Homo sapiens: one gene and its partner. The protein of the gene in region 2 interacts with the protein of the main gene of each other region in a biochemical or structural test. Each region holds a gene or a part of one and is shown on either strand. Other genes may lie near its edges.

What was found.
Region 1: of the proteins of DTX3L (region 2) and H2AZ2, one has a biochemical effect on the other in vitro, tested with the Homo sapiens proteins (one study listed by BioGRID).

Annotation. Positions count from the first base shown.
Region 1 is NC_000007.14:44,834,783-44,838,087, reverse strand, and holds part of H2AZ2 (histone H2A.V), read left to right. Parts: intron 1-2,429; coding exon 2,430-2,559; intron 2,560-3,305. UniProt on the Homo sapiens protein: Variant histone H2A which replaces conventional H2A in a subset of nucleosomes. Nucleosomes wrap and compact DNA into chromatin, limiting DNA accessibility to the cellular machineries which require DNA as a template.
Region 2 is NC_000003.12:122,562,912-122,567,137, reverse strand, and holds the start of DTX3L (E3 ubiquitin-protein ligase DTX3L), read right to left. Parts: upstream 2,801-4,226; 5' UTR 2,712-2,800; coding exon 2,525-2,711; exon of another isoform or gene 2,354-2,524; intron 1,280-2,353; coding exon 1,068-1,279; intron 1-1,067.

The sequences.
Region 1 (3,305 bases), on a different chromosome or scaffold from region 2:
GAGGCAGGAGAATTGCTTGAACCCAGAAGGCAGAGGTTGCAGCGAGCCGAGATCGCGCCACTGCACTCCAGCCTGGCGACAGAACGAGACTCCGTCTTAAAAAAAAGAAAAAAAAAGAAATTTCAGCTATTAAAGGTTCTGCAGAAATAGACCACATAGATATATTAAAATATATGACTTTGGCTGGGTGTGGTGTCTTACATTGAACATTGTGGTTCACAAGGTTCAAGCCCCATCTATCTAAGCCCCCCCCCCCTTTTTTTTAAATCTTTGGGAACTTTGGTTAAAATTTTTAAAGTTTACACAGTGGCTCATGCCTGTAATCTCAGCACTTTGGGAGGTCAATGTGGGCAGATCATTTGAGTCCAGGACTTCCAGACCAGCCTGGACAACATGGCAAAACCCTGTCTCTACAAAAAAATACAAAAAATTGACCAGATGTGATAGTGTGCACCTGTAGTCCCAGCTAGTGGAGAGGGTGAGGTGGGATGATTACCTGACCCAGGAGGTTGAGGCTGCAGTGAGCCATGATTGCACCACTGCACTCCAGCCTGCATGACAGTGAGACCATGTCTCAAAAAAAAAAAACAATTTAGGTTAAGATTGGACAATGAATGTGTGGGTGCAGTCAACTTTTTTTTTTTTTTTTTTTTTCTTTTTTTTTTTTTTGAGAGTCTTGCTCTGTCGCCCAGGCTGGAGTTCAGTGGCTCAATCTCGGCTCACTGCAACCTCCACCTCCTGGGTTCAACCGATTCTCCTGCCTCAGCCTCCCAAGTAGCTGGGATTACAGGCGTGTGCCACCACACCTTGCTGATTTTTGTATTTTTAAAGTTCAGCAGTTGATTCTCCTGTATACCCAACACTGCTCTATTTAAAACGAGGAGGTGGCCTGGCGTAGTGGTTCACGTCTGTAATCCCAACACTTTGGGAGGCCAAGGCGGGCAGATCACAAGGTCAGGAGTTTGATTTTTTTATTTTTTTTGAGACGGAGTCAAGGTCAGGAATTTGAGACCAGCCTGGCCAATATGGTGAAACCCTGTGTCTGTTTTTTTTGTTGTTTTGTTTTTTGTTTTTGTTTTTGTTTTTCTTTTCGAGACAGAGTCTCGCTCTGTCGTCCAGGCTGGAGTGCAGTGGCGCCATCTCGGCTCACTGCAAGCTCCGCTTCCTGGGTTCACGCCATTCTCCTGCCTCACCCTCCCGAGTAGCTGGGACTACAGGTGCCTGCCACCACACCCAGCTAATTTTTTGTATTTTTAGTAGAGACAGGGTTTCACCGTGTTAGCCAGGATGGTCTCGATCTCCTGACCTCATGATCCACCCCTCTCGGCCTCCCAAATTGCTGGGATTACAGGTGTGAGCCACCGCGCCTAGCCGAAACCCCATCTCTACTAAAAATACAAAACTTACTCAGGCATGGTGGCAGGCGCCTGTAGTCCCAGCTACTCGGGAGGCTGAGGCAGGAGAATAGTTTGAACCCGGGAGGTGGTGGTTGCAGTGATCTGAGATCACACCGTTGCACTGCAGCCTGGGCAACACAGCAAGACTCCATCTCAAAAAAAAGAAATTATTTTAAATTATATTTTAGGCTGAGTGCGATGGCCCAGTACACCTGTAATCCCAGCACTTTGAGAGGCTGAAGTAGGAAGATCACTTGAGGCCAAGGGTTTGACACCAGCCCTGGCAACATAATGATGTCCCATCTCTTTTATTTTTAAAAAATTTTAAAAATACATTTGAAAACTTCTAAAAGCATTAAGAAATACATTTCAGCTATTAAGGGTTGTACAAAAATGGTCTACAAGTATATATTAAAATATATGACTTTGACTGGGCGTGGTGGCTCACACTTGTAATCTCAGCACTTTGGGAGGCCCAGGTGGGCAGATCATTTCAGCACAGGAGTCTGAGACCAGCCTGGGCAACGTGGGGAAACCTTGTGTCTACAAAAAACAAAAATACAAAAAAGCCGGGTTTGGTGGCGCTCACCTGGTCACAGCAGCTCAGGACGCTAGGGCAGGAGAATAACCCTGCACTTGGGAGGTCAAGGCTGCAGTGAGCCAAGATCACACCACTGCACTCCAGCCTAGGCAATGGAGTGAGACCTTGTCTCAAAAAAAAAAAAAAAAAAAAAAGACTTTTCTAAATGTTCACATCTGGCATCTTGGCTAAGGGGTAATATCTCCTGTCCTTACCTTTATTTCTATATAGAAGTGGGTTTTTGCTCAAGTTTGTGTCTCTGTTGCAGAGAATGAATATAAATGAAGTTAAATGAATTAGAGCTTTATAAAAGCATTATAGAAATACAAGAAAGAAAAATATATTATCAGTTTATGTATTGTGTGTGCATTTTGTATGTACAAATGCTAAGTGATCCTTCATTTGGGATCCTAGGTCCTTCATTTGATATGCTAATCATGGATGCTTTGTAGGTGCTGGAGCTGGCAGGTAATGCTTCTAAGGATCTCAAAGTAAAGCGTATCACTCCGCGTCACTTGCAGCTTGCAATCCGTGGTGATGAAGAGTTGGATTCTCTTATCAAGGCTACCATAGCTGGGGGTGGTATGTATTACTACTTAAGCCTTGATTCTTATTGGTCTTTCTGACTAATATATCGTTCAGATCAATGATATAGTATATTTGATCGGTTAACTAGAAAGCATATAAACTTTAATTTCATAAATACTAAATCTATAACAATTCTAAGCTTTTCATAATGATCTGAATAAATATTTCACCTTCTAGCCATATGTAATGCTATTTTTATTTTAGCCAGTTCTTTGTCTAAATTTCATATGATACTTAAAGCCTGATGTTTAACATATTTCCCATACTTTTTTAACTGTGTTTGAAAAATGAGTTGGAGAAGTTGCATAACATACACTGGAAAGGGTTGAAATAAATACACTTGAAAAGTGGGTCAGGATCAATGAAAGTGAGAGGTAAGTTGGTGGTTCTTAATCTTCTTTGGATAACCCTCAAAGAACCTCGTGAAAGCTGTGGTTACAGCTGGGCACGGTGGCTCACACCTGTAATCTCAGCACTTTGGGAGGCTGAGAGGCCCCGGATCACCCGAGGTCAGGAGTTCAAGACCAGCCTGGCCAACGTGGTGAAACCCCATCTCTACTAAAAATACAAAAATTAGCTGGGCGTGGTGGTGCACACCTGTAGTCCCAGCTACTCAGGAGGCTGAGGTAGGAGAATCACTTGAACCCAGGACAGAGGTCGCAGTGAGCCAAGATTACACCACTGCACCCCAGCATTGGCGACAAAGTGAGGCCATCTCAAAAAAAAAAAAAAAAAAAAGC
Region 2 (4,226 bases):
TCTCTCCATTGCTCACTGCCCTCCCCACCACACTGGCTTCCTTAAAGCTTCTGGGCCTCAAAATGTCAGCTCTTGGGGACTTTGCACCTATGCTTCCCTCTAGGACACTTTCCGCCCAGAAATCCACTTGGCTAGAGATGTCACCTCACTTGAGGTTTTTCCAGACATCCTATTTTAAATGGTGGTTCTGTCACTGTCTGTCACTTATTCTTCTTCCTAGCAGGTATGACTGGCAGACATTTTATTATATATCTATTGTTTACTAATATTGTCTGTTTCTCTCTCTAGAAGGTGCCGTCCCTGGAAGCCGAGTCTGCCATGTTCCTGGCTGCCTCCCCAGCTCCTATAACAGTGCCTGGAACACAGTAGGCAGTGGATATCTATTGTTGAATGAATCTTGTCATCATTCAAGTTTCAGGCCAAACATCACCTCCTCAGTCAAGTTGTCTCTGATTTCTGGTTAGAAGTAGCACCAGGCCAGGTGCAGTAATTCATGACTGTAATCCCAGCACTTTGGGAGGCCAAGGCGGGCAGATCGCTTGAGCCCAGGAATTTGAGAACAGCCTGGGCAACATAGTGAGACTCTGTTTCTACAAAAAAAAAAAAAATTGGCTGGGTGTAGTGGCGCCTATAGTCCTAGCTACTCAGGAGACTGAGGTGAGAGGATCCCTTGAGCCCAGGAGGTCAACTCTGCAGTGAGCCATGATTGTGCCACTGTACTCCAGCCTGGGCGATAAAGTGAGACTCTGTCTTGGGGGGAAAAAAAGAAGTAACACCACCCCCATCTTCCCCTTGCTTGCCCTGGCGCTGTTTCTCTCCAAATAAATAAAATGGTTTTATTTATTTTGTTTACTTGCCTACTGTCTTTCTGTGCATGACCTGGCCCCCAGTATAAGCTGCCTGAGAGCAGGGGCCTTGTCTGTTATATTCATCTCTGTGTCCAGTGCCTAAAACAGTGCCTGGCTCCCATGTACGTGCCCAGCACATGGGTGTTGGATCAATAATACATGAGGCTGGTGACTGGAGAGGAGGCGCAGGCACAGCCAGCTCCTTCTTTCAATACTCACCTTTTGGAGACAGGAATCCACAGCATTAGGAATATGTCCTTCATGTTGATGCATATCACCAGACGGTGTTTCTGCTTGTGATTGTGTCAGTGAAGAAATTTGAGGTCTCGTGTTCTTCTTTATTGAATTTTCAGTGGGTACCAGGAAAATGGGCACAGGTTTTTCGTCAACAAGTATTTGGTGCTCTCCTTTTTTCAACACTCTCTCCTTAGCTTCAGTGGAGACATTAAACACACACATATACACACATAAAAATGGGAGAGATTTCAAGTAATCCTCTCATTCCTGTGTCTGTACTCTGCCCCAGCACCTCCCAGTAAGGCTGCTCCCTGCATCCTGGAATGGTGGGTTGGCGATGGAGAAAGTCGGGGAGCTATTAAGAGCTCTAAAGTGTGCGGATTAAGTTTTACTATAGAAGTGAAAGCTTAATGACAATGGAACATTGTCCACCGATTAAACATCATGTTTCTAAAACTGTCTCCAGTCTCCCCTTTCCTTCTTCCTTCTTTCCCTCCCTCCCTCCCTTCCTTCCTTCTTTTTTTTTTTTTTTTTTTTTTTAGACGGAGTCTCACTCTGTCACCCAGGCTGGAGTGCAATGGTAGGACCTCGTCTCACTGCAACCTCTCTGCCTCCCGAGTTCCAGCGATTCTCCTGCCTCAGCCTCCAGAGTAGCTTGGATTACAGGTGCGCACCACCATGCCCGGGTAATTTTTGTATTATTAGTAGAGACGGAATTTCCCCATGTTGGCCAGGCTGGTCTCGAACTCCTGGCCTCAGGTGATCCACCAACCTCGGCCTCCAAAGTGCTAGGATTACAGGCGTGAGCCACCGCACCCGGCCCAGTCTCCCATTTCAATACTCATTATACAGGTAAGTGACAACAGCAGGAATCAAAAGTGCAGACTCCGAATTTTGTAAATATACATGTGTTTGCTGGCATTCATAAAAAAAGGCAGGAAGGAAATACACCAAATGGTCACATTGTTTATCTTCAGGTTGTTTTCTTTTTTACTCTTTTATTTCTATAGTGAGCATATATCACTTTTGTAATCCTCAAAAACACAAAATGGAACATCCTTTTGTTCATGGATGGAACAATGGAACCATTATTTAAAACATAAAAGTGGAATCCCTGAATGACAAGGACAGCAGCTGGCAGGCATCTGGGGGAAGGAAGATGACAGCTGAGAAATTAAGTTAGAATGAGGATATGGAAAGCATCCACACTAAGGCGCCGTCAGCCAGACCCGCACCAGGCACATGTGAGGCCCCATCCTCCACCGAGTGTTCACTGTCTCAGTGAGTCTCTTGGCAGTAGGGCCCCGTCCCTGTCCGCCACCGCACAGTGACATACTTTCTCCCGCCCTCTCCCCTAGGTCAGCTGGAACTGGGTCCGCCTGGAAACCCGGGGGCCGGGCCCCCAGAGGGCTTTCGCAGCCTGGCCGCCCGAAGCTCACCTGCCCTTTCACTGAACTCCACCCGGAAGGTGCCCGGGGCTTCGTGTTCCTGGGTGCTGACCGTGCACTCCCCGCCGCCCGAGGACTTAGAGCTCTGGAAGTAGCTCTCCAGCTTCCTTCGTACTCGGGGGCCGGACTTGTACACCCGCACGAGGAGCGGGGACGGCGGGCGCAGGTGGGAGGCCATGGCTCTGCGCGTCGGGAGGGCGCGGGGGCTCCGGGAGGCAGCTGGGCGGTAAAGGCGCGGCCCGCCCTGCGGACTGGGCGCAAAGTTTCAGTTTCGCTTCCCTGGAGGTCCCTCCCTGTTCCCGGCAGAGCCGCTTCCCCCTCCTCCCTGTGCTGTCTGCACCGAGGAGAGCGGCCTGCCGGGTGAGTAGGTCCGGTGCCTCTGGGCCCTCGGGGTCCCCTCTCCTGCAGGCTCGAGGTGGGCGGGGAGAAGGGGGACGGGCGCGGACCCGGGTCCCAGGGCCAGGCCTCCCTTGTGAGTAGACTATGCAAAGAAAGTAAGTTTCTCCTGTGTTTCTTATTCTTTGTAACTCTTACTGCTGTTACCACTATTATTTGATCCTAAAAAGTAATTCACATTCTGAATCCATGTTAAACTTACCCATTTTTGAAAATTTGAATGTGTTCATCTGGTAATTGTGACCTGTTACCCCTTCCCTCCCTCCAACTCTACCCTTTAGACGGGCTTCTGCGGGCTTTTCTCCTCCATTGCTTGATTTAACCAACAGCACTGAATTGTTTCTTGCTGCCCAAAGAGCAGAGCAAGGCCCTGATGTCAAGGGCTGGTGAGGGGAGGCGGACCTGTGAACCAAGGAGCAAAACTTCTCCAAGGCCTCCAAGGGGAAGTTTCAAGCAGAATCTTAATAAATTGAGTGTGGCGGCGAGATGGGGAGGACAGGATTGGGGGGAAAAGCACCTGAGGCTTAGGGACCACTGTGGTCTGAAGCACAGAGTGGGCCTGGGGCCTGGGAGGAGAGGAGATGGGTGAGGGGATGAAGGAGGGAGAGCCTACCTAGATGGGCACTGTCCAGCAGAAATACAATGGGAGCCAGTAGGTTCATTCTAAAATTTTTGCAGCCATATTTTTTAAAGGATAAAGAAACAGATGAAATTAATTTTAATGATTTTTAGGAAATTTTTAAAGGATAAAGAAACAGATGAAATTAACTGTAATGATGTTATTTAGCTTGACATATCCAAAACTTAATCATTTCAGCATGTAATGAGATTTTTACATTCTTTTTATCATACCACGTCTTTGCAACCCAGTGTTTTTCTTATACTTACATCACATCTCGATTCAGACTGGCCACATGTAGCCTCAGTAGCTATGTGAGGCTGATAGTCCACCCTGGACAGGACATATTTAGATGGTGAAAAGCCTTGAAGAGCAGTGAAGATGACCTGAAGGGCTTTAAGCAGGGAAAGCAAGAAAATGACTTGCCAGATTTGCATTTTAGAAATATGGTGCTGACAACCGTGTGGAGGACACATTTACAAGCAGGGATGAGTGGCGGCAGAGAGGCCTGAGATAAGGTTTTTGCACATGGCTGGTAAGACTGGAAATGGGCCCGTCTTTACTGTGAACAATTTGGCAATACTGTCAGAATTACAACTGCATATACTTTTTGGTTCTGGAGTTCCATTTCTAGGAATTTGTCCCATTGATATATTAGCCCCTGTGTGAAGTGACCTG